Linked DNA regions of Homo sapiens: region 2 is linked to region 1. Evidence: fine-mapped expression QTL. A gene starts in region 1. The other region holds a variant in brackets. All regions are shown on one strand. Distances are between the middles of the regions. Region 1 holds the start of SCLY (selenocysteine lyase). Region 2 overlaps UBE2F (ubiquitin conjugating enzyme E2 F (putative)).

Region 1 (16,335 bases):
CTTTGTGATTTCCAAACTTAACTATAAAGTCATAGTAATCAAGACAGTGTCATAAGGAGAGATGTATAGATTAATAGATAATAGAGTCCAGAAATAAACCTATGCATCTATGGTCAATTGAGTTTTTTTTTTCAAGTGATAGGGGTCTCACTATGTTTTCCAGGCTAGACTTGCACTCTTGGGCTCAAAGGATTTTCCCACCTCAGCCTCCTGAGTATGTGGGACTATGCCTGACTTGATCAATTGATTTTTTTTTTTCTTTCAGGCAAGGTCTGGCTCTGTTGCCCAGGATGCAGTGCAGTGGTGCGATCTCAGTTCACTGCAACCTCTGGCCTCCCAGGTTCAAGCCATCCTCCCACCTCAGCTTCCCGAGTAGCTGGGACTACAGGCATGCGCCACCACGCCTGGCTAATATTTTTGTATTTTTTGTAAAGACAGGGTTTCACCATATTGTCTAGGCTGGTCTCAAACTCGTGAGCTCAAAGCAATCCACCCACCTTGGCCTCCCAAAGTGCTGGGATTACAGGCATGAGCCACTGCACCTGGCCTACAGTCAATAGATATTTGATGAGTATCAAGACAATTAAATGGTAGAAAGAATAGTCTTTTCTTACCTCATGTCATATATTATAATACAAAGATTAAGTCAAATGAATTAAAGACCTAAATACAAGAGCCTGGCTAATGGTGAAACCCTGTCTCTACTAGAAATACAAAAATTAGCTGGGCATGGTGGCACACGCCTGTAATCCCAGCTACTTGGGAGGCTGAGGCACAAGAATTGCTTGAACCTGGAAGACAGAGGTTGCAGTGAGCCGAGATCGAGCCACTGCACTCCAGGCTGGGCAACAGAGCAAGACTCCATCTTACGGAAAAAAAAAAAAAAAAGTTTACTGGTTGCTAGGGTATGGGAAATGAATACTAATGAGCACAGTTATTTCTTTTTGGGGTGTTGAAAATATTCTGGAATTGGTGATGGTTGCACAACCTTGGGAATAGACGAAAATCCACTGAATTGTGTACTCTAAAAGGGTGAAGGTTATGGTATGTGGATTATATCTCAGTTTTTGAAAACAGTATAAAGAAATCAAGACAGAATACTGAAAACTGTTCAGGTAACCCAAAGGAAGGCAAGTAAAGAGATACAGCTTGAAACCCAGATGAAACAAACAAAACGGTAGATTTAAGAGCTAACATATCAGTAATTCTCTTAAGTCAAAGATTGGCAGAGTGGATTAAAAGACACAACTCAATTATATTGTTTAGTAGAAACTCCCATCAAATTAAAAAACATTTGTAGATTGAAAGGATGAAAACAGATATGCGGAATTTAATTTAAAAAAAAAGCAGCAGTGACTATATTGATATCTGATCACTTAGACTTCAGAGCAAAGAAAATTGGCAGAGACAAAGACAGATATTACATAACAGAAGATTCACCACCAGACAGTCCTACATGTGCCTTTACCAACATCAGACTCTCAAAACACATGAAGTAAAAACTGATAGAGCTGAAAGGAGACAGACAAATCTGCAGTCACAGTTGGAAATTTCAGTTGCTGAGTCATTACAGTGAACATGCAATTACTGTATGCCCCAGCTACTACATTCTTGACCATTTATCCCAGAGAAATGAAAACTTACGTTAACACAAAAACCTTTACACCAATGTTTATAGTAGCCTTATTTATAACAGCTGTAATCTGGAATCAGCCCAGGTGTCCTTCAACCTGTGAATGGTTAATCAAACTGTGGTACACACATACCCTGGAATACTACTCGGCAGTGAACAGCAATAAGCTATTCACAGCAACTTGGACCAGTCTCCAGGAATTACACTGAGGAAAAAAAAAAAAAATCTCAAGAAGTAACATGCTGTATGTTTTTGTTTATGTAACACATTTGGAAAAACAAAATTTTAGAAACACAAGAGTTTAGTGGCTGGCAGAAGTTAGAGACAGGAATGGGCAGGAGGAGGGGGTGGATTTGTTTTTAAGACTAATACAAGGATCCCTGTAATGATGGAAATGTATCTTGATTGTGGTAGTGGATACACAAATGTACACATCACAAAATTGCATAGGGCTAAACACCCCACAAATGAGTAAAGCTGGGGAAAAACAATGAATTGTATCAATGTCAGTATCCTGGTTGTGAGATATATATACATATATATATATATATATATGTATATATATGTATATATATATATATATATATGTATATATATGTATATATATATATGTATATATATGTATATATATATATGGAGAGAGAGAGAGGTGGAGAGGAAGTATTGCTCTGTTGCCCAGGCTGGAGTGCAGTGGTGATCTCGGCTCACTGCAACCTCTGCCTCCCGGGTTCAAGTGATTCTTCTGCCTCAGCCCCCCGAGTAGCTGGGAGTACAGGCACATGCCACCACACTTGGCTAATTTTCGTATTTTTAGTAGAGACGGGGTTTCACCATATTCACCAGGCTGGTCTCGAACTCCAGACCTCGTGACCTACCCACCTCGGCCTCCCAAAGTGCTGGAATTACAGGCGTGAGCTACCTCGCCTGGCCCTGGCTGTAATGTTACACTATAGTTTTCAAGACGTTAATCATTGTGGACAGCTGGGTAAAGGATCTTTTTTTTTTTTTTTTTTTTTTTTTTGAGACAGAGTTTCACTCTTGTTGCCCAGGCTGGAGTGCAATGGTGCGATCTCAGCTCACTGCAACCTCCGCCTCCCGGGTTCAAGTGATTCTCCTGCCTCAGCCTCCCAAGTAGCTGAGATTACAGGCATGCGCCACCATACCTGGCTAATTTTTTGTATTTTTAGTAGAGACAGTATTTTTGTATAGTTTTTTGTATAGTAGAGAGTATTTTTGTATTTTTGTTGGTCAGGCTGGTCTCGAACTCCCGACCTCAGGTGGTTCATCCGCCTCAGCCTCCCAAAGTGCTGGGATTACAGGCGTCAGCCACCACACCCAGCCAGGATCTCTTTCATTTATTTACATCTGCATGTAAATCTACAATGATCTCAATACAATTTTTAATTAAAAATATATATCCAGGCCAGGAGTGGTGGCTCATGCCTGTAATCCCAGCCCTTTGGGAGGCTAAGGCAGAGGTCAGGATGGCTTAAGCACAGGAGACCAGCCTGGGCAACATGGTGAGACCCCATCTCTACAAAAAATACAAAAGTTAGCCAGGTGTGGTGGCATGCACCTGTAGTCCCAGCTAGTTGGGAGGCTGAGGTGGGAGGATTGCTTGAGCCTGGGAGGAGGTTGCAGTGAGCTGAGATCATGCCACTGCACTCCAGCCTGGGTGACAGAGCAAGACTCTTGTCTACAAAAATAAAATAAAATAAAATAAAATAAATCCAGCACACACCAGAGAAAATATAATATGCCTAGCATTCAATTAAAAATTACAGGCCGGGCTCGGTGGCTCACACCTGTAATCCCAGCACTTTGGGAGGCCGAGGCAGGGGGATCACCTGAGGTCAGGAGTTTGAGACTAGCCTGGCCAACATGGAGAAACCCTGTCTCTACTAAAAATACAAAATTTAGCCGGGCATGGTGGCGCATGCCTGTAATCTCAATTACTTGGGAGGCTGAGGCAGGAGAATCACTTGAACCTGGGAGGCGGAGGTTGCAGTGAGCCAACATCACGCCCCTGCACTCCAGCCTGAGCGACAGAGAGAGACTCCATCTAAAAAAAAAAAAAATTAGAGAAAGACACTGGATGGGTTTAACAGCAGCTTATATGTTACAAAAGAAACATGGACTTCAAGATAGAGCCACAAAGACAATCCAAAATAAAGGGAAAAACTGGGAACCTCTCCCCCCATGAGAACTTCATGAGCTGTGAGATAACTCATAATTGTGAATCCCCAAAGAAGCAGGGGAGAAAGAAATATTTGAAAAGAAAAAATTTCCAAATTGATAAACACTCTAATCCAATGGGTCTGAAAAGGTCAACAAACCCAAAGCACAAGAGCATGAAGAACGCTACCCCATAGTGAAGTCTCATAATGAAACTGCTCAAAATCAGTGACAGAGCAAAATATTTTAAATAGTTTTTTAAATTTATTGTGAAGAATGGGATCTCGCTATATTGCCCAGGCAGGTCTGGAACTCATGGGCTTAATCTGTCCTCCCACCTCTGCCTCCCTAACTGCTGGGAGTACAGGCGTGAGCCACTGTGCCTGGCCAGAGCAAAATATTCAAAGCAAGCAGGAAGGAAATAAAGAGACAACATATAGAGGAACAAAGATAAGAGTGACAACAGATGTCTCGTGCAGACAATACAAGCAAGAAAATATTGGAGAAGTAACTCTAAAGTGCTGAAAGAAAAAATCTCAAGCCAGAATTCTAGATCTAAGGAACATATCAAATATGAAGGCAAAATAACAAGTTTTCATGTGTACAAAAGCTGAAGGAAGCATACCAGCAGACTAGCACTACAAAGTCCTTTGGCAGAAGAAATGATACCAAATGGAAACGTGGAACCACATCAGGGTTTCTCCCCTTTGGCACTGGCGACACTTGGGGCTAATAATTTATTGTGGGGGATGCTCAGTAGTATAAATAGCCTCACTCACTACAGCCCAGAAGCACCACAGCTCCTGTTATGGTAACCAAAATTGTCTCCAGATATGACCAAAGGACCCCTGGAAGGAAAAATCACCTCTGCTTGAGAATCACCATATTCAATGGACAATTTTATTTCATATTTTCCATCTCTATCCTTTTGAGCAATAATCAGAGAATTCCTAGGGCCAGTTCACGAATTCACTCCTCAGCTATGCCTATTCTGCTCTTCAACCCATCTATTGGGGGGTTCTAAAAAAAACAATAAACCTTATTTATTAGAGGAGTTTTAGGTTCACTTGAAAATTGAGCAGTTACCATATATCCCCTGCCTGTGCACATGTACGCAACCTCCTCCACTATCAACATCCACTGTGGTACTTTTGTTAACAACTGATTAAACTTCATTGACACATCATCACCCATAGTCCATAGTTTACATTAGGATTCATTCTTGGTGTTGTATCTTCTGTGAATTTTGACAAATATATTACATGTATCCACCATTATAGTATACAAAATAGTTCATTGCCCTAAAAATTCTGTTCTCTGCCTATGCATCTTTTCCTTCCCCAACACCTGACAACTCATGTTGAGTTTTTAAACTTCAATTATTAATGTCTAGTATCTCTTTTCACTGTTTGTTCTTGTTTCATGACAGCCTATTTTTTTTTTTAAATAAAATACCCATTTGTCTCAAGACCTTGCTCTATTGGAGACCTACTCTGATAGCTCTATAAACTTTTTCCCTTAGGTGAGAATTCTATTTGGTGCACGTGCTATTGTGTCCGGAATTGGTGGGTTCTTGGTCTCACTGACTTCAAGAATGAAGCCGCGGACCCTCGCGGTGAGTGTTACAGTTCTTAAAGGCGGCGTGTCCAGAGTTTGTTCCTTCTGATGTATGGATGTGTTTGGAGTTTCTTCCTTCTGGTGGGGTTTGTGGTCTGGCTGGCTCAGGAGTGAAGCTGCGGACCTTCGCGGTGAGTGCTACAGCTCTTAAGGCGGTGCGTCTGGAGTTGTTCGTTCCTCCCGGTGGGTTCGTGGTCTCGCTGGCTTCAGGAGTGAAGCTGCAGACCTTCGTGGTGAGTGTTACAGCTCATAAAGGCAGTGTGGACCCAAAGAGCGAGCAGCAGCAAGATTTATTGCAAAGAGTGAAAGAACAAAGCTTTGACAGCGTGGAAGGGACCCGAGCGGGTTGCCACTGCTGGCTCGGGCAGCCTGCTTTTATTCTCTTATCTGGCCCTACCCACATCCTGCTGATTGGTCCTTTTTACAGAGAGCCGAGTGGTCTGTTTTGACAGGGCGCTGATTGGTGCGTTTACAATCCCTGAGCTAGACACAAAGGTTCTCCAAGTCCCCACCAGACTCAGGAGTCCAGCTGGCTTCACCCAGTGGATCCCCCACTGCGGCTGCAGGTGGAGCTGCCTGCCAGTCCCGCTTGCCCTGCGCCTGCACTCCGCAGCCCTTGGGCGGTGGATGGTACTGGGTGCCCTGGAGTAGGGAGCAGCGCTCGTCTGGGAGGCTCAGGCTGCGCAGGAGCCCATGGAAGTGAGGAGGTTCAGGCATGGCAGGCTGCAGGTCCCGAGCCCTGCCCCACGGGGAGGCAGCTAAGGCCCGGCGAGAAATCCAGCGCAGCGCAGGTGGGCTGGCACTGCTGGGGGACCCAGTACACCCTCCGCAGCCGCTGGCCCGGGTGCTAAGCCCCTCATTGCCCGGGGCCGGCGGGGCCGGCTGGCAGGCCGCTCCGAGTGCGGGGCCCGCCAAGCCCACGCCCACCCGGAACTCCAGCTGGCCCAGAAGCGCCCCGCGCAGCCCTGGTTCCCGCTCGCGCCTCTCCCTCCACACCTCGCTGCAAGCTGAGGGAGCCGGCTCCAGCCTTGGCCAGCCCAGAAAGGGGCTCCCACAGTGCAGCGGTGGGCTGAAGGGCTCCTCAAGTGCCACCAAAGTGGGAGCCCAGGCAGAGGAGGCGCCGAGAGCGAGCGAGGGCTGCCAGGGCTGCCAGCACGCTGTCACCTCTCACTATCTTCATGGAGATGCCATTCCTCAAATGTCTGGCCACTATGGGGCACTTGTGTTTGTATTAGAGACATCTTGGTAGGTCATCTGTTGCATGTGTGACCAGTATACTTGGAATGGTGGTAGCTGCTGCTGCGTGTTGTACCCTAAACTGTTTTCAGCTGGGCTACCTCAGCACCTGGGCTTCTGTATGTTTGTACTCAATTCTTTCGGGGTATCACCAGCCATGTTGGACACTATCTTGTCTGACTCCACCACTACACTCACTATGTTCACCTGGAAACACAAACCTTATTGCTGCCTAACTGGCCCAAGGAGTGCTTGGGATGAATCGTCACTTTGTCCATTGTCCTTGGGCTCCTATCCTTACAGCCTTCCAAACAGATTTAGAGAATGAATTCTCCCCATGCCTATCAACTTCCCTAGCCACCTTTACTCTTAACTTCATCCCCTATCGTCTCCTCCAGGACTTTGGCTCCTCTTCCTTGCACGTCCTGTTGGCTAACTCCCTTTAGCCTATGAACATGTTCAGTCTCTATTTGCTCTTAATCTTTTTTTTTTTTTTTTTTTTTGAGACGGAGTCTCACTCTGACTCCCAGGCTGGAGTGCAGTGGCATGGTTTCAGCTTCACTGTGTAACCTCCACCTCCCAGGTTCAAGTGATTCTCTTGCCTCAGCCTCCCCAGTAGCTGGGATTACAAGCATGCACCACCACAGTCGGCTACTTTTTGTATTTTTAGTAGAGACGGAGTTTTGCCATGTTGGCCAGGCTGGTCTCGAACCCTTGACCTTAGGTGATCCACCCACCTCAGCCTTTCAAAGTGCTAGGATTACAGGGGTGAAGCACCGCGCCCAGCTTGCCTGTAATCTTATACGCCTTTTTAATTCCTCCTTTCTCAACCGTTTTAAGAGTTGACTGCATTCTTCATTTTTTCATATCCCATCTTTGCATTCTAACTTCCATGCCTCTCCCATCACTGAGACTTCTCTCGCTAGTTTATCAGTGCCTCCTAATTGTTACGCACAGTAGACTTCGGATTGCCTCTCAGCCACACTTTACACTATTATGTGTCTTCTTGACTTTTTTGACATTCCTTCTCAATTCCCTTTCCTTTCCTCCTCTTTTGACTGTTCTCATGCTCCTGTGCATCCATTTGCTTCTTAAATGTTGGTGGGCCCTTTGCTATTGGCTGCATTTGGCAAGAAATGAGCTGCGTTTATAGGGAAGAATGAGAGAGAATGAGTCCAGAAATTTGCAGATTTGCTGTGCTGGAAAAGCCAAGTTATTCTGGACCCCAACAGGACACAAAATAGAGAAAGCCCATGAAAAGCCAATTAAAATTCAACCTCTTGGCAAAGCATGCTTGAAACCGAATTTTGGCTCCAGCCACTACTCGTGTGAACTTGGGCAAGATGCCTTTCTGTATCTTGGATTCCTCATACATAAATACCTACCAGACTGGGTTAATCATCAAGATTAAATTAGTGAACACACGAAAAATACCTAGAACACTGCCTGGCATAGTTCAAGGCTCAATTAAAGGTAGACACTATTATGCCAAAAAAACAAAAAACAACAAAAAAAGTGACGGTAGGATGGCTTCGTGAGGATTTTTGCTCATTTCTACCACTTTCTCAACTGACTTTTCTTAATGGTTGGCGGGACACCAACCATTGGTGGATGTTTACACTTGTGACTGTCTCACAGACAACTCAACATGTCCAAAGCTAAACCCATCATCTTTCCCCCTCCCGTCTTCCCTCTTACCCAGATAAAGGCACTAACATCTTCCCAGTCACTTGTCTAATCCTTGCTTCCTTCCTGTCCCTCATGCCCCAATTCCTATTTAACGGCCTAAACAGATCTTGAATTAATCTTTCCTGCGTTTCCACGCCCACTTAGAGTCCCTCATCTCTGGCCCTATTTTCTCAATGCCCTCCCATCCTCTACTCCAGATCCCCTCAAGTCCATCCTCGATGCGTGACTCTTAACTTCACGCCATCCAGGTCCCCTATGGAGCCGCTCCGACTAACGGACGCGCAGGTCCAGCGGACCTGCTCATCACTGTCCAGGGTGGCCTGCGGGAGACCCCCGGGGCCCTGGCCCTGCTGCCGCGGCCCCGGCACTTCCCCTCGAGGGTTCGCGGGGAACAAGGCCGCGCGGCCCCGGCTCTCCCGGAGTGCACGGTCCCGCGCTCATGCGGCTAGAGGGAGGCACCCGCAGGACTGCCCAGCCGCCTCTGCTCCTCAGGTCCAGCTCGGGCCCCGCCTGCTCTTACGCCGACTAACCGGCCGCGGCCCGATGGCGGCCCTGCCGCAGACAGCAAAGGTCACGGGGCTCCCCCGGAAGTGAAAGTGCGGGGATCCGCCGGCCCAGGAGACGCGGCTTCTAGCGCCCGGTTCCCGGGAAGCTCTGTGACGCGCTAAGCCCCGCCCCCACCCGTCACCTGACCCAGCGCAGCCTCGCCTCCCCGCTGGGGGCTCGGCGGCCCTCTGAAGCGGGTGGATTGGCTGGGGTGCTTCGCTCAGCCAATCCGGACGCGCCCGGGCGTCGCGGCCCCGCCTCCTCCCCGGCGCTCTGGGCCCGTAGCGCTCCGCGGGAAGGAGGCTGGATGCCCGGCAGCAGTGGGGCGGGGATGGAGGCGGCCGTGGCGCCGGGGAGGGATGCGCCGGCACCCGCGGCGAGTCAGCCCAGCGGCTGCGGGAAACACAACTCGCCGGAGAGGTGCGCGCCTTTAGGGCAGGGCTGGGGAGCGGCCGGCGCCTGTCGCCGATTGTCCCGCGCGGGAGGACGAAGGGGGCTCCCGGCCTGTGGCCGCTCTCGCGTGGGGCGTCCCGCGCGGGGATGTCCGCGAGGTCGGCCTAAGTCAGGGATGCGAGCTTCAAGGAGGAGCGGGTGCGAGCTGTGGCCCCGCAAGGGCCCACGGAGAGGTGACTTTGGGGCCGAAACCCGAGTGACTTCCAGGGGTGAGGTTTGCAGGTTCTGGGGAAGCAGAGCCTGCCAGGAAGAGGGCACAGCAGATGCGAAGGGCAGGGGACTTGCCGGAGGTGAACCGGCAGAGCCCCTGAGCCCGGGAAGAACTTTGGGGTTCATTCGGAGCCTTATGGGGCCTCGGAAGTTGATCACGGGGCGATGCAATTTAAGTGTTTTGAAGGAGTCCTTCTGGCTGCTTCCTAGAAAGTAGGGGCGCGGGTAGGCATGGGACGAGAGGAAGCCGGGAAGCCAGTTGGGGATCTTGTAACAACCTAGGAGAGAGATGTGGTGTGCGCCCAGAAACGGATGCGTTGGTAGGAAGCTGGTGCACTGGGGCAGGTGAAAGGGAATCAAGGGTTCTCCCAGACTGCTGGCCCAGCTGCAGGAAACGGGATGGCCACCGCTGAGAAGCGCGGAGACCCGAAGCACGTGGTATCCATACTAGTTAAGTCCGAGAAGAGCAGGAGGCAGGGGTATGCATTTTCTGGTTTGTGTGTCTTCTTTCCAGACCCCTCTTTTTCCTTTTTGTGAGCTCATTCGCTACCCATGCTTAGAATATGAGGGGGTCCAGGCCTAAAGCACACACATTTGGCATTCTACCTTGGTTGGAACAAAGTGAAGGGATCTGGGAAAATATCCCCTAGGGAATCAGTGGAGCGAGATTCCCAAGATTTTTTATTTTTTGGTTATGAAGCTAACAAAGTTGAGCCTGCTCATCCAATACTGATAGCATTTTAAGGAAGCAGCAAATAATGAAGCAAAGGAATGTGTAAAGTATTAATCTGAACAAAATAGATTTGTTCAGCCCAGCAGCAGATTGAAGAGCTACAGTCGCTCAACAAACACTAGCTAGCCTAAGGTACTTTGGATGCTTATTTATAGGAAAGAAAAACAGATATAAGGGCACATGCAAAGTCAAGCCGGGCTGGGGGATTCCTAGGACTATTAATACTAGTACCAGAGTGGTAAAGGATGGCGAGTCAAACTTGTCAAAGCCTTGTACCTATTGAGTGATTTTTTTTTTTTTTTTTAATTGAGATGGAGTCTCACTCTGTCACCCAGGCTGGAGTGCAGTGGTGCAGTCTTGGCTCACTGCAACATCCACTGCCCGGGTTCAAACGATTCTCCTGTCTCAGCCTCCCAAGTAGCTGGGATTACAGGCACGTGCCACCACGTCCAGCTAATTTTATTGTATTTTTAGTAGAGATGGGGTTTCGCCGTGTTGGCCAGGCTGACCTTGAACTCCTGACCTCAGGTGATCTGCCCGCCTTGGCCTCCCAAAGTGCCGGGATTACAGGCGTGAGCCACAGGGCACAGCCTGTTGAGTGATTTTGAACAGAAAAGATGCTTCATTTCAACTAATGCACATTCTGTCCACACTCAGTGGCTTAACAGCCACAGTTAGTCATTGTATCTGGGTTTTCATGTGGATTGGTGTAAGCACTGTTTATTTAAAAACTAGATAAATTAATATCAGGCAGGACTACTACTACACATTTTTCTAAAGGCTTTCGAAGGTTTTGGATATTAGTAAAAAGATATACAGATAAATTTTACTTAGTGAGGGATCTTTCAGGGAATTTGTACTTTCTGTGGCATTTATTTTGTCATCTTATAAAAATCAGGCCCCTGTTGTGTGGCAACCATGGGCTTCAACATTGGTGACAGGGCAGTGAGAAAAACAGAGCCCCCATGCCCATGGAGCCATACTTCTGTTACTCTATTAAGGTAGACAGTAAGGGAACAAGTCTGGTATGTCAGATGATGATGCTGCCCAGAAAGGAAGGCGGGAAGGGGACCTGGAGGCTGGGGAGGTAGGGACATAGGTGGCTGCAGTTTTGTGGGTTTGTTTTTTTTGTTGTTGTTTTTTTTTTTTTTGAGACGGACTCTCACTCTGTTGCCCAGGCTAGAGTGCAGTGATATGATCTCGGCTCACAGCAACCTCTGCCTCCTGGGTTCAAGCAATTCTTCTGCCCCAGCCTCCCTAGTAGGGCTAATGTTTGCATTTTTAGTAGAGATGGAGTTTCACCATGTTGGCCAGGCTGGTCTCAAACTCCTAACCTCAAGTGATCCACCTGCCTTGACCTCCCAAAGTGCTGGGATTATAGGCGTGAGCCACCGCGCCCAGCCAGCTGTAGTTTTAAGCAGAGCTGCAGGGCAGGGGGTCTCACAAGAGGACTAAGTTGGAACAAAGACCTAAAAAAGTAAGGTGGGGGCAGGGCATGTAGTCTTTCTGGGCAAAGAAACTGAAAGTGCAAGGTCTGGGGCCAAAGTTCACCTGCCCCAGGGAGAAGCCCAGGTCACTAGGAGCCCCACAGGCCATCGCAAAAATGAGTGTGGGGAAATAAGGCGAACCTCTGATGAAGTTAAAACAGCAGACAGGAAAGTTCCCTTGGGGAATGTGCAGCTGTTCCCCTCCTTCCATAAGGAAGAGGCCAGTGATCTGCCCTTTACAGCAGTCAGATGGGTAATCTGGGCCCAACAGACCATTAATCCTACCAAGGGGTAGAAAGAGTGTTTGTTATTAGAGACTGGGTCTGGCTGTGTTGCCCGGGCTGGAGTGCAGTGGCTATTCATAGGCACCATCATAGCTCACTGCAGCCTCAAACTTCTGGCCTCAAGAGGTCATTCCGCCTCAGCCTCCCACATGGCTGGACTACAGGCACAATCCACTGTGCCTTGCTAGAAAGAAATTTTGAAAACCGAAATGAAAATCCAAGTCCTATCAATTATAAAAGAAATTGACAAAAACTAGAGTCTTAGAAATTATGCATGCATTTTCCATAAGTAGTGTAGATCTGTAGATTCCCAAGTGCAGCTTGTGGATGCCTGCAGTGCTTATGCAGAGGATCACCATGCCCTTGACATTATTTGCTCCTGCCGATGGGATAGACACAGAGCAGCCATATTTCCCATATGCCATCTCCTTTTCCTTAATGGGTGTCTTTGCTTTCTTTCCTTCAGGAAAGTTTATATGGACTATAATGCAACGACTCCCCTGGAGCCAGAAGTTATCCAGGCCATGACCAAGGCCATGTGGGAAGCCTGGGGAAATCCCAGCAGCCCGTATTCAGCAGGTAATTCTAGAAGATGCACGTGTTCACTGATGGGAGATAATGGGGATGGGGCGCTCTTAGAGAAATTGCACACCCACACGTGACGGCTTTGTTTTGAATAGGTTTCTGTTAGCTGCAATTCTTGAGCTGTAATTTTTGATAGTTTCTTTTCTGGGAAGGCCCCATTTGTAAGCTGAGCCTTGTCGATACTGTAATCTTTAACCTTTAATGTTTAATCTTTAACATGCTGTCCTGTCACCCTTTCCCAGATGAGAAAGGTGTCTACTGAGAGTTCCTTGAAGTAGCAGTCAGTACCTGTGGAGCACTTCACAGATCTAGCTCAGTCAATCCTTACAGAATTTGCAAAATATGTCTTTTAGGTCATCAGGATAACATATAATCCTGGCCCTTTTTAAAGATGAAAATTACTTTTTCATTAATTACTTTAGTTATGAATATTCTTATTTGTTTCCAATTTATTCTTATTGTAATGTAGACCATTAAATTGGAGGTTTTGGAGAAGAATTTGCTTCAAGTCAGTTATATGACAGAGTTACATTCTGTTTTTCAGACAGATGAGCAAGCTAAAGTCTTACCTTTCTTATTTCATGTTTATGAGAGATAATTAAGATAAACTGTGTTAACTGTGGATGATGATGAACTAAATTAACTTCAAACAGAATATTGCCAGGCCATACGATTTAGTAACACTTGCGTACAATTTACAGGTTTAATACGTTCTCCTATCCATTTGCTTATTAAACGTTTCACGGCAACTTAATAACAAAGCCCTTCAGCTCAGATACTAGTCATTCATTAACTTATTTGTTGGCTTATTTGTTGGTCTATTCTGGCTAATCTTCTGCACATTGCCTCGTATCCAGTCTCTCCTCTAGTAAAATTGAAATTTCTGACGTATTAGACTTGAAAATATGGAGAATAATTAAATGCCGATGACAGGCATTGTCTCATGAAAAAGTCTGGGAATCGCTCTCAGGGAGAAATCATGTTCTGGACCTGAATGAAGCCTGGCAGTGGCTTTTAGGTTTCCTTGATAGCCTTTGTTTCCACAAATTAAGAACCATAAACTCAAAAGTGTTGCAGTTCACTTTGTGTTGCTACTCAGATCGAAATGCAAAAGAAAAAAAATCAATTTATAGAGTGGTTTAATTATTTTCACAATATTGTTATTTAAACTAATAATATTTTATTTTATTATTATTATTATTATTATTATTATTATTTTGAGATTGAGTCTCGCTCTCGCCCAGGCTGGAGTGCAGTGGTGCAATCTCGGGTCAATGCAACCTCCGCCTCCCGGATTCAAGCGATTCTTCTGCCTCAGCCTCCCAAGTAGCTGGGACTAGAGGCACGCGCCACCATGCCTGGCTAATTTTTGTATTTTTAGTAGAGACGGGGTTTCACCATCTTGGCCAGGCTGGTCTTGAACTCCTGACCTTGTGATCCACCCACCTCGGCCTCCCACAGTGCTGGGATTACAGGTGTGAGCCACCATGCCCAGCCTAAATATTATCTAAAGCCTTTGAGGGAAATTTATTTTAAGGAATATGTTGAGGATGTGGGGATTTTACATACCTAAGATATTTATCACAGTCTTGCTTATAATAGCAAAACAAACAAAAACCCTGAAAATAAGCTCAGCATTCATGAATTTTTATGAAAAATAAACTATCTTCGGCAAAACAAGAAACCTAGTGAGCATTGCACTGTTGTGCATGTGGAAGTCTCTTTACTGCCTGTTGCTGGAAGATAGCTGGCGCTCATACCTCCCCGTCCAGCCCACTGCAGTCACATCATAGTGACGGAAGCCTCTGGAAGGTTCACCATATACCTGTGAGAAAAGGAGCGTGAAAAAGGCAGTTCTTCTCTTAGTATCATCATGAAAACAGTTTTGACTTTGTGGACCTCCTGAGAGGGCCTTGGGGTTTTGGAAACCGCTGACGTAAGCAGCACTGACTGAGCACCAGCTGTGTACTCAGCACCCTGTTGGGGGAGGGATGAAGCACGGTGCCCAAAATGTATTTGGGTTTTCGAGGCATTACTTTGTCCACTATGTGGAGAATGGACCCTGGTGGGGGCCTGCTAGGAGAACATCACAGCAGTGGCCTTGGCTTGGTTGGTGGCTGGGCGGTGGAGAGGCAGAGTCAGGTTTGGAACATCGTTTGAACACAGAGCCTACAGCATTTGCTGGTGGATTAATTGGCGGGGAATGAAAAGGGAAAGAGCCCACGCTTTTGCCCTGGGCTGCTGAGGGATGGAGTTGCCATTTCCTGAGTGTATTAGTCTGTTCTCATGCTGCTAATGAAGATGTACCTGAGACTGGGTAATTTATAAAGGAAAGAGGTTTAATTGACTCACAGTTTCCCATGGCTGGGGAGGCCCCACAATCACGGAGGAAGGCGAAAGAGGAGCAAAGTCACATCTTACATGGCAGCAGAGAAGAGTGTGCGTGCAGGGGAGCTCCCCTTTATAAAACCATCAGATTTCATGAGACTGATTCACTATCACGAGACTAGCATGGGAAAGACCTGCCGCCATGATTCAGTTACCTCCCACCGGGTCCCTCTGATGACGTGGGAATTATGGGAGCTACAATTCAAGATGAGATTTGGGTGGGGACACAGCCAAACCATTATCACTGAGAGAGGGAAGGCTGAGAGTGAGGGTGACAGTTTATTACGGTGACTTTTAGTGTCACCAAGAAAAATGATGGAGTTTTCCTAAACACCACTTAGGTGTTTAGGAAACTACTACTAAAACTGACATCTATACAGTAGCGTTAAGGAGCAGCAGAATTACTTTGCATATTTATTTTACCTCAGCTTTTTATATTTCTCTTTTTTATGATGTTTCGTAATAGTATATGTTTTAGCGGTGCCTGCTCAATTTTTTCTTATTTTTAAATAAGACTGAATGGTCAAAAAAGTTTGGGGACTCCTGGTGTGTACACTAAGAATGGTCACTGAAACTTTCGGCATTCCCATGCCAGAGCCTTTCCTTCTTTGCCCCATCAAGCATGGTTGCTGTGTTTTCCTTCTAGCCAGTGAAACTGGGTGATGGCCGGATGCATAGCCCTGTTTGAAAGCAGGTGTGTCCCTGAGACAGTAACCTTTGTAGCCCAGGTACCCTGTGGGCGACATGCAAAATGAGATATGGCACTGGACTTCGCGTCGAGTCATGAGTTCTGTTTTTGCTTATTTTTGTTGTTTGCAACTCATTCCATCCTTTCATTCTCCTCTCTTGATGAATGGGAAGCAAGGCAGATGGCCACAGCTGCCCTCCCTCTAGCATCCAGTAAGAAGAAAGCCACATCTTGGGGGACGTCCAGGTTCATAGCCAGACTCCCTTACTTGTTTCTGGGTCTCATGGAGTTAATAACTCTCAGTTTGGTCCCTGGTTCGCTGCTGTCTCGGCCGCCCCTTTGCCGGGTTGTGTCTAGGTTGTAGCATTTTGCTGTGCTCACATTAAGGGGCCAGGTTTTGTCTTAGAACGGCCCACGCAGACCTCTTATTCCTTTGTATTTGGTTGTCCTTTTAGATGCGTTGATTGAGCTTGGTGAAGCAATGTTAATGAATTTCCTTTTTGGTCCCTCAAGGAAGAAAGGCCAAGGATATTATAAATGCAGCTCGGGAAAGCCTCGCGAAGATGATAGGGGGGAAACCTCAAGATATAATCTTCACTTCCGGGGGCACT
Region 2 (16,335 bases), 49 kb before region 1:
ACCTGGCCGGAATATTCCAATTTTTGAGCAAAGAATTACAGTTGGTAAACCTGAAACCTGAGATGGTTCCATGCATGAACATTTTGTTTTTTTGTTTTTTTGAGACGGAATCTCACTCCATCACCCAGGCTGGAGTGCAGTGGCGCGATCTTGACTCACTGCAATCTCCGCCTCCTGGGTTCAAGCGATTCTCCTGTCTCAGCCTCCTGAGTAGCTGGGATTACAGGTGTGCACCACCACGCCTGGCTAATTTTTATTTTATTTATTTATTTTTTTTATTTTTAGTAGAGACAGGGTTTCCCCATGTTGGCCAGGCTGGTCTCGAACTCCTGACCTCAAGTGATCCATCTGCCTTGGCCTCCCAAAGTGCTGGGATTAAAGGCATGAGCCACCATGCCCGGCTGACGCATGAATGTTTTGGAACAACATTTAAATAGTTATGGACATGTAAGGAAGATAAGGAAATGGAGCAGAGCACCAGAGTAGACCTATTACCTTGACCAACATCCTGACCATGTAGTAGTTTACATGTAGTTTATTGTTAATATGTAAAGGTTTCAGACACATAAAATTTATACTCTCATCCCTGTTTCTTTCTAGCTTGATTTTTAATTTTAGTATGGAGATAAACATTATAAGGGGGATAAATTTGAAGAAGCACAGTTTTTTTTTTTGGTGGAATCTTTTCTTTCAAATAATCTTAAAAATACAGATGCCAATTTTCTTGCGATGTAGAATAGAAATGTGATGTTAGCTCTTAAAATGTCAGTTATCTGCCAAAGCATTCTCTTAACTTTCATCAGGAAAACATTGACTGCTCTCTCCTTGCTCCTTCCAAGAATTTGGCTGGTGTGATGCTTCTTTGCTTACTGTGCCTACTGAGTAGGCCACCCCATCATCTGATACAGAGACACCTGATCTGTTCTCACATTGGTCTGTCCCCTGCCTTAAATGTAACTCCAAGTCAGATTCTCTCGTGGGATGCTCAGGCTTCCTGAAGTGAGTATGACATGAATTGTTTTAAAAACCATTCATTTCCATGGGCAAAAACAGATTCTGGTGGTCTCCAGTAAAAATGTATATAGTGCGTATAAAATCTCCAAAACTGACATAGTATTTAAATCTTAAGTTTTTTGGCATTTAAAAAATTACCACCACTCTTTAAGTTTCCCGTTCCACCTGATGGTGTCTTTTATGTGGCACAGGCTTTTTATCTTTTTTAAGAATCATGTTTAGTGGGCTATAATTTACATACAGTAAGTTTGCCATTCTTAGATAGACAGCTCTCTGCCTTTTGACAGGCCTACGCACTCACATAACCACCACTGCAATCTTGAGGAAGTTTCCATCACCTCAAAAAGTTGCCTCGATCTGCTTTGTAGATCCCCTCTCCATCCCCAGCCCCTGGCAATCATCGACCTGATTTCTTTCCCTGTAGTTTTCCCTTTACTAGGATATTATTTAAATGAACCCAAACAATATGCAACATTTTGTATGTGGCTTCTCCCACTTAGTGTAATGCTTTTGACATTCATCCATGTTGTTGTGTTTATTGTTATTTCAGTTGTATGGGTGTACCACAGTTTGATTATCCATTCATCAAATGGTAGACATTTGAGTTGCTCTCAGTTTTCTTAAATTATAAGAAACTACAAAATTGTTCTTTCCAAGTAGCTGCACTATTTTGCATTCCCACCAGCACTGTATGAGAATTCTAGTTGCTCTGTATTTTCACCAGCATTTAGTTGAAAAAACTTTACTCATGGTAGTGGTTACATGGTGGTATTTAATTGTGGTATTAATTTGCATTTTCTTAATGACTGTCTCTTTTTTGGAGATGCGTCTGCTCAACTGTTGTGCTCATTTAAAAAAAAATAAGGTTTTTTTTTCTTATTGTGGGATTTTAAGAGTTCTTTACCATAGATACGTCTTTTATCAGATGTGTTTTATAAATGTTTTTTCCTAGTCTATGGCTCGTCTTTATTTCCTTAAAGACCTTTTAAAGACCATGTATTTTAAATTCATTTGGGGATATCCAACTTATGATTGTTTTCTTTGTGGTAATGTGGTTGGCAGAATAATGGCCCTAAAAGATGTCTGTGTCTTAATTCCTGGAACCTGTTGAATGTGTTATGTTTCATGGCAAAAGGGAATTAGAGTTGCAGATAAATTAAGATTGCTAGTCATCTGATCTTAAGGGAGGGAGATTGTCCTGGAGTTTCTAGGTGGACCCAGTGTAATTACAGGGATCCTTAAAGTGGAAAGGGAGAGAGAAGCAGTTAGAGCCAGAGAAGGTGATGTGACAATGGAAGCAGGAAGCAGGTGAGGCACTGGCAGAAAGACTCACCTGCCACTGCTCCCTCTGGAGATGGAGGAAGGGCCCATGAGCCCTGGATGCTGGCAGCTTCTGACCGCTGATAGTGCAAAGAGACAGCCTTTTCTGGGGCATCCAGAAAGGAGTGCCCTCTTGCCAACTTCATGATCTTAGCCTAGTGAGACCCATTTTGGTCTTCTGGCCTCCAGAAGATAATAAATTTGTATTGTTCAAGGCACAGAGTTTGTGGAAATTTATTATAGCAGCAATGCAAAACTAGTAAGAATAGTTTGTGTTTGTTGTGTCCTAAGAAATCTTTGTCTAAGAAATACAAAGATTTTCTCTTATTTTTAAAATTATTTTATTTTTTTGAGACAGGGTCTCGCTCTGTTGCCCCAGCTGGAATGCAGTGTCACGATCATGGCTCACTGTAACCTCCACCTCCTGGGCTCAAGTTATCCTTCCGCCTCAGCCTCCTGAGGTAGCTGGGACCACAGGAACATGCTACCACACCTGGCTGATTTTTGTATTTTTTGTAGAGACAGGGTTTCACCATGTTGCACAAGCTAGTCTTGACTCTTGGGCTCAAGTGATCAGCCAACTTTGGCCTCCCAAAGTACTGGGATTACAGGCAGGAGCCACCATGCCCGGCCTTATTTTTTTAAAAGCAGAAGTTTTATAGCTCTAGGTTTTATGGTTAGGTCTGTGATCCAGTTTGAGTTAATTTTCACATATTATACAAGAGAAGAGTGTAGTTTTCTGGTTTTTTTTTTCTATCTCTTTTTTGCATTGTCCATTTCTAGCACCATTTGTTGAACAGGGTTTTCCCATTGACTTACCTTGGCACCTTTGTTGACATTACATGACTATATGTGTGTGGGTGTGCTTCTGGACTCTGTTCCATTCCATTGTTCTGCACGTCTACACTTGTACAAATACTACTGCTTGATTATTATGGCTTTATAGTAAGTCTTGAAATCCCATCATGTGACCTCTGACTCCTTCAACATTTTTCTACTTTTTGGTAGAAAATTATTTTGGTGATTTTTGTTCCTTTACTTTTCCACATACACTTTAGAATCAGCCTGTGAAATTCGGCAAAAAACTTGCTGAGATTTTGATTAGGACTGCATTGACTCTAATGTAAATCAATTTGGGGAGAATTGCTGTGTTTGTTTATTTGCATTGCTATAAAGAAATACCTGAGGCCAGGTAATTTGTGAAGAAGAGGCTAATTTTGGCTTATGGTTCTGCAGGCTGTGTAGGAAGCACGGTGCTGGCATCTGCCTCTAGTGAGGGCATCAGGAAGCTTATAATCCTAGCGGAAGGCAAAGTGGAGCCGGCATATCACATGGTGAGAGAGGGAGCAAAAGAGATGCAGACTCTTTTAAACAACCAACTCTTGCATGAACTAACAGTAAAAACTCACTAATTACCATGGCACTAAGCCATTCATAAGGGATCTTCTCCATCACCCAGACACCTCCCACCAGACCCCACCTCAAACAAACAATGGGCATCACATTTCAACATGAGATTTGGAGGGGACACACGTCCAAACCATATCAATTGTCATCTTAATTATCACATCTTCTAATCCATGAACATGGTTTATATCTCCATTTCAGTTTTCTGTTGCTAGTACATAAAAATACAGCTGATTTTTGTATAGTGACCTTGTGTCCTACAACCTTGATAAACCTGCTTTTCATTGTAGTAGTTGTATTGTGGATTCTGTAGACTTTCCTATGTAAACTATCATGCCATCTATGCATAAAGACAATTTTATCTCTCCCTTTCAGTCTGTATCCTTCTGTTTCCTCTTCTTGCTTTACTTTGTTGTCTAAGACTTCCAGTACAGTCATATATAGAAGTGGTAGGAGGGACATCCTTGGCTTGTTCCTTTTTTCTTTTTTCTTTTTTTTTTTTTTTTTGAGAGTTTCCTTCTTGTTTCCCAGGCTGGAGTACAATGGCATGATCTCAGCTCACCACAACCTCCACCTCCCAGGTTCAAGCAATTCTCTTGCCTCAGCCTCCCAAGTAGCTGGGATTATAGGCATGCACCACCACACCCGGCTAATTTTTGTATTTTTAGTAGAGATGAGGTTTCACCATGTTGGTCAGGCTGGTCTCGAACTCCCAACCTCAGGTGATCCGCCTGCCTCTGCCTCCCAAAGTGCTGGGATTACAGGCGTGAGCCACTGCACCCAGCTGGCTTGTTTCTAATCTTAGGGGGTTGCTGTCAGTCTTTCATCATTACGTGTATGGTTTGCTGTAGGGTTTTTGTCTGTTTTTTCGAGACAGAGTCTTGCTCTATCGCCAAGGCTGGAGTGCAGTGGTGTGATCTCAGCTCACTGCATTCTCTGCCTCCCGGGTTCAGGCGATTCATGTGCCTCAGCTTCCTAATTAGCTGGGACTACAGGTGCCCACCACCATGCCCAGCTAATTTTTATATTTTTAGTAGATATGGCATTTCACCATATTGGCCAGGCTGGTCTCGAACTCCTGACCTCAGGTAATCTGCCCACCTTGGTCTCCCAAAGTGCTGGGATTACAGGCGTGAGCCACTGAGTCCGGCCTTGCTATAGGGTTTTTGCAGATGCCCTTTATCAGGTTGAGAAGTTCTTTTCTACTTCTTGTTTGCATATATACATATATATGTATATGTATGTATGTATTTTTTTTTTAATCATGAATGGATGCTTTTTTCCTCCCAAACCAAAAATGGCCAATAATGAATGGATGCTTAATTTGCCAAATGCTTTTTCTGCATCTACTGAGGTGATCATAATGGTTTTTCTGTTTTGGTCTGTTGATAAGGTAAATTACATTAATAGATTATTTTTCAAATGTTGAACCAAAGCTGCATTTGTGAGATAAACCATAATTCATCATGTATTATGTGTTAATGGTTTCATATATTGCTCAGTTTGATATATTAGTATTTTGTTAAGAATTTTTACAAATCCTTACCTGTCTGTGAGGGATATTTGTAGTTTTTTTTGTAATGAGTTGCCTAATTTTGGTGTCAAGGTAATGCATTCTGGTCTTTGAATGCATTTGGGGAGTGTCCTATTCTCTGGAAGAGTTTGTGTAAAATTAGTATTAATTAGTTAATTGATTTTTTTTTAGACAAGGTCTTACTCTCTTGCCCAGGCTGAAGCACAGTGGCACGATCACGCCTCACTGCAGCCTCAACATCCTGGGCTCAAGCAGTCCTCCCGCCTCAGGCTCCCAGGTAACTGGGACTACAGATGCCCATCGTCTGTAGTGGGCAGATGCACTACCATGTCCAGCTAATTATTTTTTGTAGAGACGGGGGTCTCACTATGTTGCCCAGGCTGGTCTCGAACCCTTGGGCTCAAGTGATCCTCCCAAAGTGCTGAGATTACAGGTGTGAGCCACTGTGCCTGGCCTATTAATTCTTTATTCAGTGGTAGAATTCACCTGTGAAGCCACCTGTCTCTGGAATTTTGTTTTGTTGTGGTAAGATTTTAAGTATAAACACAATTTCTAATAGATATAGGGCTGCCTAGGTTATTCTTGAGTGGGCTTCACTAATTTGTGTCCTTCAAGGGATTTGCTCATATCATCTGCATTTTTCAATTTATTGATATAATGTTCTTAGTATCATCTTATCCTATCCTTTTAAGTTCTGTAGAGTTTGTGTTGTATCTCCTCTTTAATTACTGATGTTGTAATTTTTGTCTTTTTCTCTTGATCAGGTTAATGAGAAGATTGTCAATTTTTTGACCTTTGCAAAGAACCTACTTTTAGGTTCATTGATTTTGCCCTGTTGTTTTTTGAATTTTGTTCATGTCTTTGTTATTTCCCTCCTCTTTATTTCCAGTTTAATTTGCTCTTCTTTTTCTGATGTTTAAGATGGAAGCTTAGACAAACAGTAGTATGTTTCCATTTCCCAGCTCAACCTTTATATTATAGTTCTCATTTGTTTTACTTTTACATATGTTGTAACCCAGAATATATTATCTGTGCTTTACAGTCTGTTTTTAAAATATATGTCTCCACATACTTAACATTTATGACCCTCATTCCCTTTTGTAGATCTAGATTTCTCCTCTCTGTTATTTTCCTTCTGCCTAAAGAACATCCTTGAAGATTTTTTTGTAGTGCAGATTTGCTTGTGATGAATTCTGTCAAGTGTTGCTGAAGTTTGAATTCTTAAGTTGACAGTTTCAGCATTTTAAGGATATCATTCTACTGCCTTCTGTATTTTTTCCTTACAAGTTAGTGGTGATTCTTTGTTCCACTTTATGCGATGTGCATTTTATTCTCTGGCTGCTTTTAAGATTTTCTCCTTATCACTGCTTTCAGCAGTTTGATTATAATGTGCTTTGAAGTGGTTTTTTCTTTTTATCACACTTGGGGTTTATTAAGCTTTTTGGATCTGTGAGTTATAGTTTTCATCCAATTTAGAAATAATTTGGCCAACATTTCTTTAAATATTTTTCTGTGATCGTTTTCTGGCACTCTAGTTTATATATCTATATCATATATGTCTTACATATAGATTACTTCTACGTGTAAATTATACCTCCATTGGGTCGCAGGTCTTCGTTCACTTTTCTTTCTGTGCCTCATTTTGGACAGTTTGTTTTTCTGCAATGTCTCATTTGCTGTTAAGCGCATCCAGTGAATTTTTCATTTCAGATACTGTATTTTCTAGCTGTTGACGTTCCATTTGGTGCTTTCCCCGTAACCGTCCATTTCTTTCCTCATTATGTTCATGTTTTCCTCTAAGTCTCAGCATCTCTATACAATAGCTGTCATTGTGCCTTTGTCTGCAGCCCTGCATCCCAGAGTCCTGGCCACTCCCTGGTGCCCATGTCTGTGCTGCCTCCTGCCTCCGCTCACACTCACTTCCTCTTCTCCACCATCTGTCTCTGTCTCTTCTCTTTCAACAGTCTGATCTGAGATGGATCAGAGCCTTTTAAGTTTAAAGTTTGCATAGGATGTCACTTCCAGGGTGCTGTAAATATTGACATTTAAAAATGAAAGTCTTATATTACTCTTTGAAATGTTTCCAGTGTAGAATATAAATACCACAGATATGCCCACCACCACAGATACTCCCATCATCACAGTTTTTTGTTTTTTTGTTTTTTTGTTTATTTTGATGTGAATAAGCTCTACTTCACTGGCTGGAAAACCTTTGCTAGTTTTTCTCCTGGCACTCATGTTTTCATTCCACTTGTTCCCTTGAATTGCACCCTAATGTAAACATTTTTATGCTTTTAAGTATTTTATTTGTCATTTTTTTATACTCTTCTGTAACTAGATATACAGGTAGATAGATAGATTGAGCTTTATTTATTTGGTTTTTTTTTCGATACAGAGTCTTGCTTTATTGCCCAGGCTGGAGTGCAGTGGCACAATCTTGGCTCACTGCAACCTCTGCCTCCCGGGTTCAAGTAGTTCTTCTGCCTCAGCCTCCCAAGTAGCTGGGAATACAAGTACCCGCCACTATGCCCGACTGATTTTTGTATTCTTAGTATAGACGGGTTTCACCATGTTGGCCAGGCTGGTCTCGAACTCTTGACCTTGTGATCCGCCTGCCTTGGCCTCCCAAAGTGCTGGGATTACAGGCGTGAGCCACCGTGCCCGGCCCAGAGCTCACTATTTGAAAAGTTCCTATAACTGTAAGACTCTTAGGTGTTAAACATTTGCTTTTGAACGATTGTTGCAGTTGTTATTTGTACAGGCTCCTGCTTCTGGTTTTTCCTCCTTTGTCTCTGGCTGCCTGTCCTCTGCCTCATCTTCCAGCCCCTCAAAGTGGGGGAACCTCAAGGCTTCACCCTGTCTTTGGACCTGTATAGTCAGTTCCCTGGTGTCCTGGCTATCTTGTGACATCAGAATGCTTTACCCTGAATGGCTCCCAAACTGCCCTCTCTATCCAACCTCTCCCAGTACTCAAGAATGATCTGTCAGCTGCCCACTCAACACCTCCACTGGGATGCCAACTTGAAATCTCAAGTTAATGTGTCTGATTTGAACTTCACACAGTTGTGCCATCTGCAGTCCTTTTATCTTCATGGTAGCAACTCTGCCATTTCCATTGCAAGGTCAAAGATCTTCTTTGACTCCTTCTCTCCTCCCTCCGTGCCTAATCTGTCAGCAAATTCTGGTGTTGCTGCCTTCAAAATCTGTCTACTTCACCTGCTCCCACCCTGATCCTAACCATTACCATCTCTCACCTGGATGATTACAACAGATAACCACAACTGGGCTCCTGCTCTGCGATCCATTTATATGCTCCTGTGCCTCCCCTACTCAGACCCCTTTCATGGCCGCATCTCACTCTGAATCAGAGCCAGCTACATGCAGGGGCCTGCAGGGCCCAACACCCTTTGCATCTGCTCCCTCTTTGGGCTCAGGTCCTCTTCCTCCACCTCACTCTCTGACCACATTGGCTTCTGCAGGGTTCACGGAACATACTAGGCCTCTTACCGTACCCACCCTGTTTCATCTGCCTGGAGTGTCCTTCACCCCAGTACCCTCCTCCTTCAATTCATCATTTTCTCTGACCTCCCTGCTTAAAACTGCAGCCTCTTCCCACTTTCTACTCCTTCTATTATATAATTTATGTATTTTCTCTCCCTTCCACTAGAATATACGCTTCATAAGGGCGGGAATTATCTCTTGTTGATGTGTCACCAGGGCCTAGAACTGTGTGTGGCACATGGTGGGCACTCATCAACTATTTGTGTAATGAATAATGAATTTAAGCAAATTTTGATGATAATTAAACATTTCACTTGCAGTGTATCTCTGAAAATGATGGGGTTACTATTAGCATTTTCCCTGATTAAATTGATGCATTTGTGAATGAATATTATTTTATGCTAGAAACAAAGGTCTGATACCAGTTTTCTTCCATTATTTTGTCTTTATAGATATAAACACTCAGGACTGCTTGTTCACATAAATAAGTAGATTAGATGGGCATGGAAAGTGTCTTGTTATGGCTGTGCCATTTTGTCTTTGGACTTCAAAGTTAAAGGCCAAAGATTGTACAAAGTATTTTCTTTTTTTTGAGACAGGGTCTCACTCTGTTGCCCAGGCTGGAGTGAAGTGGTGCAGTCATGGCTCACTGCAGCCTCAAATTTCCAGGCTCAAGCAATCCTCCCACCTCAGCCTCCTAAGTAGCTGGGACTACAGGCACACACCACCACACCTGGCAATTTTTTTTTTTTTTTTTTCTGTGGAGATGGGGTTTTGCCATGTTGCTCAGGCTGGTCTCAAACTCTTGAACTCAAGCAAGCCACCTGCCTTGGCCCCACAAAGTGCTGGGATTACAGGCACGAGTCACCTTGCCTGTCGTCATATAAAGTATTTTCATGATTTTTCCACTGACTGTTAGATTAGATTCCTTCTTCCATTTTGTTGAAAGTAGAGAATTGGAAGCCACCTGACTTGGAGAAGGCTTTGTCACTCAGTCATTGGAGTCCTTTGCTTCAGTTTCTGAAGTGTCCACCAGAATCA[C/G]TTTACCAATCCCTGTCAGCTGCAGGGACATCAAATGCTTTTCTACCCTGAATAGTTACATCTGTCACTCCTCACTTCAGAGCAGCTTTGCAGGCTTTTGCTGGAAATGCTGAGGAAGAGTTGAGAGAAACAGCAGTATTATTAATTTCCACATGCTAATATGTATACCAATGTAGTATTTTTAAAAATCTTATTACATTCTTCCTATTTTCACCCAAAGCTTGGAGCTCCAGATTCAGCCCATTCAGTTTATCAAAACTATCTGCCATATACATTAATTGTCAAACTAGTCTGCGAAATCACTCTTTCCCTCAGGCAAAAGTCTTACTTCATTTTCATTCTAACAATATGCCTCTGACAGCCATCTCACTCTGAGCTCCTGGAGGTTCCTAGTTAGATAGGTGAGACGTGGAACTGGTGCCCTAGGTGGAGGAAGGCACCATGGCTGTTGTTTCTTGGCATCCTCTTTTGTTGGCTCTCAAAGGGGTAATGCCTGCTTTTACAGTGGTCTAGGGTTTGAAGTTACTAAATGAAGTTTTCATCATCCCTGCCATCAGACTCCACAGTGTCTGAACCCAAGACACTCCAGCGTGAACCAGGACATACTATTTATAATACCATGCTTTGTCCTTTACAGAAATGGGTATAGGCCAGGTGTGGTGGCTCATGCCTGTAATCCCAGCACTTTGGGGAGGCCAAGATGGGCAGATCGCTTGTGGTCAGGAGTTTGAGACCAGCGTGGGCAGCATGGTGAGACCCCATCTCTACAAAAAAACTAGCTGGGCGTGGTGGCACACACCTGTAGTCCCAGCTACTTGGGTGGTTGAGGTGGGAGGATCACCTGAGCCCTGGAGTTCGAGGCTGCAGTGAGCTGTGCACCCCAGCCTGAGCAATTGAATGAGACTCTGTCTCAAAAATAAATAAATAATTTAAAAAAAGAAAGAAAGAAATGGTTATAGATAGGGAAAAGCGAATGGAGACACAGTGGTGGGGGAAAAAGCAAATATAGGGAAAAGCACAACCCTACCTTAATGTGTCGCTTTGAGGTGGCTTTACCCTTATCAGTGCGTCACGGGTACTTTTGTCCCCTGGGAATGTCCACTCCTTGAGACAGTTCATTCTAGTACAGGGGGAGATGGGAGGTAGGCCTTTTTTTGCAGGGGGGAAGAAGGTTGTAGAAGAGGAGGTGGGACAGAGAGCTGGCATGACTCCTTGGCCTCAAGGGCGTTGTCCACAGATTTGTTACCAGACAGAGCATATGTGGATGTCGGCCATCTAGAATCTAGAAATGGATTCTGTCACAGTGATTTGAGGCGACATACCCCTTCAAAAGGTTTGTTTTCCCAGGGCTCTCGGTAATCTTGAAGACACTGGAGTATGGTTCCTCAAAGGTAGTGAGGAGTGGGCTCTAAAGCACAAGGAAAGAGGAGGATAATTCCTCTAATTGTAACAGTGGGGCAGGGGCCAGGCTGGCTGATTGAGAGCTGAGTGCCAGGAACTTCCCTCAGTTGCATTTCATTATTGTATTTTAAAACCTAGTTGTCTGAGAAATGTGTTTTCAGTCCCAGCAGCCATGGACGATAGTAACATAGAATTGGCCTGTCCTGGACTTGTGTACTGTGCTGTGGGCCACGGTGCACGTGTAGTTACAGACATTCTCAATGAGTCCACTACCTGCCGGCTGTGGAAGTGAGCAGGCCTTCCTTGAACCGTCTCCGCCTTGGGCCAGGTACTCCCAGAGCCAGGTGTAGAAGGTGAATCTGAACTCTTAAGCTGGGGACATCGTGAAGGAAACCTTGTAAATAAGAGATGCTCTTGGGTTTCATCTCAGTCCAGTCTGCTCCCAAGCTGCTTTTTAAGTTGGACTGTGGAATTTCTGGGCAAATTAACAATAATAAATAAGCAGATTTGGATCAGGTCTAAAAACTGTGCAACTTCAAAGAGGGAAAAAGAAGTACTGATGCAGGAGCAGATCATTTTCCTGAGAGAGATTTGTTTCATGAAAGAGAAAAAAATAAAACAGTCTGTTCTCACTTTTTAATGAGTTAAGAGAAGATATAATCCTAATAATTATTAAGGAAGAACTTGACTGGAGCAGAGGGAATAAGGTGAAGTGATAATCATATTAGACCAAATAACATCTTTGAAAGTGGTAGGCAATAGAGTTGAAACTCTGTAATCCATGAACTGGAAAGCCAACTAGAGAAAAAATATAGCATGGCAGGATGGAATGGCCAGAGCACAGCCACGACCAGGGTGTCTCGCATGGGTAGTAATCATTCCTAAGGGAAAGGAAAAGGACAGCGCGGGTGAAGCAGCATCATCCAAAAGCTGTGTAACAGTTCACAGAGTGGACTGCGTGGTTTGTAATGTTAAGCCTGGCATTGGATTTCTGTGTTGTGCCACAGTGGTCAATATCACAATACATGTAAGACACCAACATCCACACATGCTTTGATGAACAAGGATATGTACTCTGAGTATTTTATATCTAAGATGCCACTTATTTGAAAAGTTCTTATATCTGGAGTTAAAAATTTCCCCAAACAAGTATCTTTGCCAGAGACTTTATACTGCCAGTCAGAAATCCAAGTGTATTTATAAAAACTAGAAATACGCATCTCAAGTAAGTGGAGGAAGGCTAGAATAATAAACGCCGTTGGGGTGATTAAGCAACCAGTTAGGAAAAAAAATACGACCTTAGTCTGCAATCAGTTGATGAATGAATGAGCTGATTAAATGTAATCTATGAAACCATTAAATTACTAGAAGAAAATATAAGAGGATATTGATATAATCTTGGTTGGGAAAGGCCTTTTCTAAGCATGACCCCAAAGACAGAAACCCTAAAGAAAGATTAGCTTCTTAAAAATGGAAAACTAGTGTTCAGAAACCACAAAATCAAAATGCAAACAGCAGACTAAGAAAAATTGCTTGTAGCCTATTTAAAAAGCAAAGGCTAATTAAGAGATTTTTGTATTGGTAATTAAAAGATGAATACCTCAGTAATAAAAGGAGAGTTTCAGAACATTGATCATTCAGTTCTTAAAAGAAAAACCTAAATGACCAATAATCATATAAATTTTAGCCTCACTAGTATTCATCAGAGAATGTAAAATAAAAGAGAACTGGTATTTCTCTTCTATCAAATTGGCAAAGAAAAAAAATGTTAGGGTCCAGGTAATGCCAGTTTTAACTACTAGATGACATAAATGTTGATACGGTCTCAACTCTTAAGGAATGGAATTTTTTTTTAATGATGACTTGTTTGAGGCTAACAACTTGCTGTTATGCATTCATTTCATATAAAAATTTGAGGAAAATGATAAGATTTAATATTACTGGTTTGTTCATGATGATAAATATTTTAGGGGAAGTTGAATTTTAATTTTAAAATGGTGCTAATTCTGTCAAATTTGAAAATTGAGAATAATTTATTTCCAGTGGCTTTTCCAAGCTCATTCATGCTGAAGTGCCCTCTGCTGGCACCAGCAGCCACTTAGTGACCCCAGGCTGGGTACCACCTGAGGAGAGGGACTGCCCTGTGGGGTCTACAGGGTGTGGGGGGCGGGGTAAAGAGGGAGTGGGGGTACACAGCATGTGGATGGCAATGTGGTGATGCTCAGACCCTGGGCTTCCTCCTTCGTGCCTACCAGCCCGCGTTTCTAGAAGGCCTGCTCTGTTCTGAAGGCTGCATCAAGCAATCACTGAGGCAGTGATTCTGTCAGGTTCACTGCTGTGTCCCCAAGGCCTAGAACCATGCCCAGCAGAGGTTGGGTGCTCAGTAAGGGTTTGTTGGTGACTGTTAGTCTTGTGTCCTCCAATTGACATTCTCTTGGGGAGACCAGCAGTAAGCAGATAAAGAAGTCACTTAAGGCATGAGATGTGTTCGGAGGGTTGTAGGTTCCAGGAACATGGTAGGATGCAAGGAGGCCAGGCAGATGGCCCCAGAAGGATGTCCCTTCCCTTCCCTGAGGGTGTGCTCAGCCCCCTGAGAAGACAGACAGGCAGGTGACAGCATGGAGCCCATTTCTGTTCAGGCAGGGGCAGGACTTCCACCAGTGTGTGTGCATTTGGTGATGGAACCGAGGAACTCTGCAGGCCTGTTTTTAAACTCCTGATTCTCTGTATTTGCCATATCCTAACAGAGTGTTTGCTTTTTGTTTCCTTTTTTTTTTAATTTAAAGGATTTTTTTGTTTTGTTTTGTGTTTTTTGATAGATGAGGGTTACTACCAGGGTGGAAAATTTCAGTTTGAAACTGAAGTTCCCGATGCGTACAACATGGTGGTGAGTAGCCTGCGTTGAGCCTGTTGTTTTACTTCTCGGGCGGGGCTGCCTGTGGCTGTGGCCCGCCACTGGCACAGGGCCCTAGCACTCCCCTCTGCGTGTGTCCATGTGTGACTGAGTACTCACTTCAGTATTTTTGTGATGAATGTCACTCATCAGCAGTATTTAGAGTGTTAGTAGAGAATTCCGTTTATTCAGCAAATACTTATGAGTACTATGTGCCAGGCAGCCTGCCTGTGTATTTTCTATAACTCTTATCTGTTACAGTCTGGCACTGAAGAAAAAAAGCATTTAATAAAATGACTGTAGTTTTGTTCATGATATAACACCAAAATTCCAGAAGTCTATAAAATGTGTATTTTAGAATTTCAGAGAACAGTGACTTGTAGTTTAAACTATAAGTAATTTATACCTATAGTTTCATGTTAATCCCTCAAAGATCCTTTTAGACAATAATTATACCAAATACCATTACATTATGTCTTTGCTTTGGTGGAACTTACAGACCAATTAGGAGAGATAAAGTGTAGAAAGTTGATAAAGCGATAAAAATGGTAAGTAGAGGACAGTAGTGATACTCATCAATGATAGGAAACTAGTTTTTGAGAATTCAGAGAAGGGAAAGTAATCATCACTTTGGAAAGTGGTCAGGGCTAGTTAAGCTTTTAGGGGGAAATCTAACTGGAGTCACCCCGATGTGGCCCAGAACCAGGGGAGGGTATTCTAGGTGACATGGAAACATGATGAACTGTGGTGACAGGTGTGGACATGAGAACTTGCAACCTGCAGAAGGCAGATAGGGCCAGGTCAACTCGAGTGAAGAATTGGAGTTGGGGAAGAATAGAGGAAAAAATGGGAAAACTCAGATGTGGGGGTTTGGTTGGGCATTTTCGATTTGGCAGTGACAAACCACTGGAGAGTCTGAATAATTCCACACCCCCAAGTTGGGGTATTAGAGGAGGTGTGGCTGCGCTTCAGGGACGGGTGTGATGTGTCTCGGCCCAAATTGCCAGGGGTTGACGTACAGGCAGTTCAGCATGCTTGTCTTACTGGCGTGCACCATGGATATGTATTCCTACTCACGTGTTCTAACTAACCCTCTTGGCCCGTCCAGTAGGAAAGCACAAGCTGATGGTGCTGCCAGAGAAAAGGAAGCCTCACTCCCATCATGAGGATGTGGGCATTGGGGACACTGTTCCTGTGACTTCGCTTGTGGGAAGTGTGCTCCCACTGCCTGACGAGTGGAGTTGCCCCCCAACCCCAGCCACTGGGCTCCGTTCAGTGGCTGCAACACTTGTTTTAGAAGCAAACCTTCATCTATGGAAATTGACTTTTTACCGGACTACTCCATTTAAGGTTCTTTTTGAAATGTAATTTATGGGGATAGGGAAGAGTTGGCAGCCCAAGAAATTTTTAAATTTGTAGACAAAGATGGGAAAATACACATTTCCAGTCTTTGTCCATCCACCACCTGCTGAGACTTTCCATCCTTCCCAAACCACACTGAGAAACCTGGCGACGGAGCACTGCACCATGTCCGGTGGGAGGTGGTTCCAGAGGCTTGGTTTCAGTACAGATGTTTAGAATTTGGGGACTCTTTGGTGGTTTCTGGAAACAAACAGGCATACAGTATTTAAAATTCTGTATTTAGATTTGCTGCTAAATACTTATGACATACCGTTCTGGATGTCATAGCAGGGAGTTAAGTCTAAGCTGATAAACTTTCCAGACAAGTCGTGAGGCATCAGAGAACCATTGTTTCAGGTATATCTGGCATCATCTAGGAGCAGAGCTCCTTGTTTTCACTATAGGAAGAAAGCAAACTAAGAGAAAATACCAGGGAAGGAATGGGCATGATTGAGAGCCTCTGTGTGCCAGGTGTCTTGACTCACATTACTTTATTTCATTCTTCTGATGGTTCAGTGGGTTATTTATTTATTTATTTATTTAGAGACGGAGTCTTGCTCTGTTCCCCAGCCTGGAGTGCTGTGGCGTGATCTCAGCTCACTGCAACCACCAGCTCCCGGGTTCAAGCAATTCTCCTGCCCTAGCCTCCTGTCAGTGGGTGATCTTAACATTCATATCTTTATACATTAGGAAGTTTGGGTTCTGAAAGCTAAAGTTAAAAACATTAGCTTTGCCAATGGAGACGGCTGAATTGTTGAAGTCACTTAATGTCCAGGGCTGCCCAGCTTTTAAGCGTGTGCCCTTCCTACCACATCAGGTGGTG

The links.
Region 2: its variant is fine-mapped to the expression of SCLY in whole blood (TOPMed, PIP above 0.99).

Annotation. Positions count from the first base shown.
Region 1 is chr2:238,051,828-238,068,162 of GRCh38, forward strand. It overlaps SCLY (selenocysteine lyase), which reads left to right and starts at 9,174. Exons shown (of 12, transcript NM_016510.7): 1 at 9,174-9,316; 2 at 12,530-12,642; 3 at 16,238-16,335. The coding sequence starts at 9,228. It overlaps UBE2F-SCLY (UBE2F-SCLY readthrough (NMD candidate)), which reads left to right. Exons shown (of 19, transcript NR_037904.1): 8 at 5,331-5,423; 9 at 12,530-12,642; 10 at 16,238-16,335. RefSeq lists an enhancer at 5,455-5,624, a cis regulatory region at 5,540 and silencers at 8,584-8,793, 8,934-9,383.
Region 2 is chr2:238,002,529-238,018,863 of GRCh38, forward strand. UBE2F (ubiquitin conjugating enzyme E2 F (putative)) reads left to right here. Exons shown (of 10, transcript NM_080678.3): 5 at 14,038-14,105. The region is part of intron 4 of UBE2F-SCLY (UBE2F-SCLY readthrough (NMD candidate)); the gene reads left to right. Among named protein-coding and RNA genes, the nearest start is that of UBE2F, 44 kb to the left of the region's middle. The variant C/G (reference allele first, on the strand shown) is at 9,818.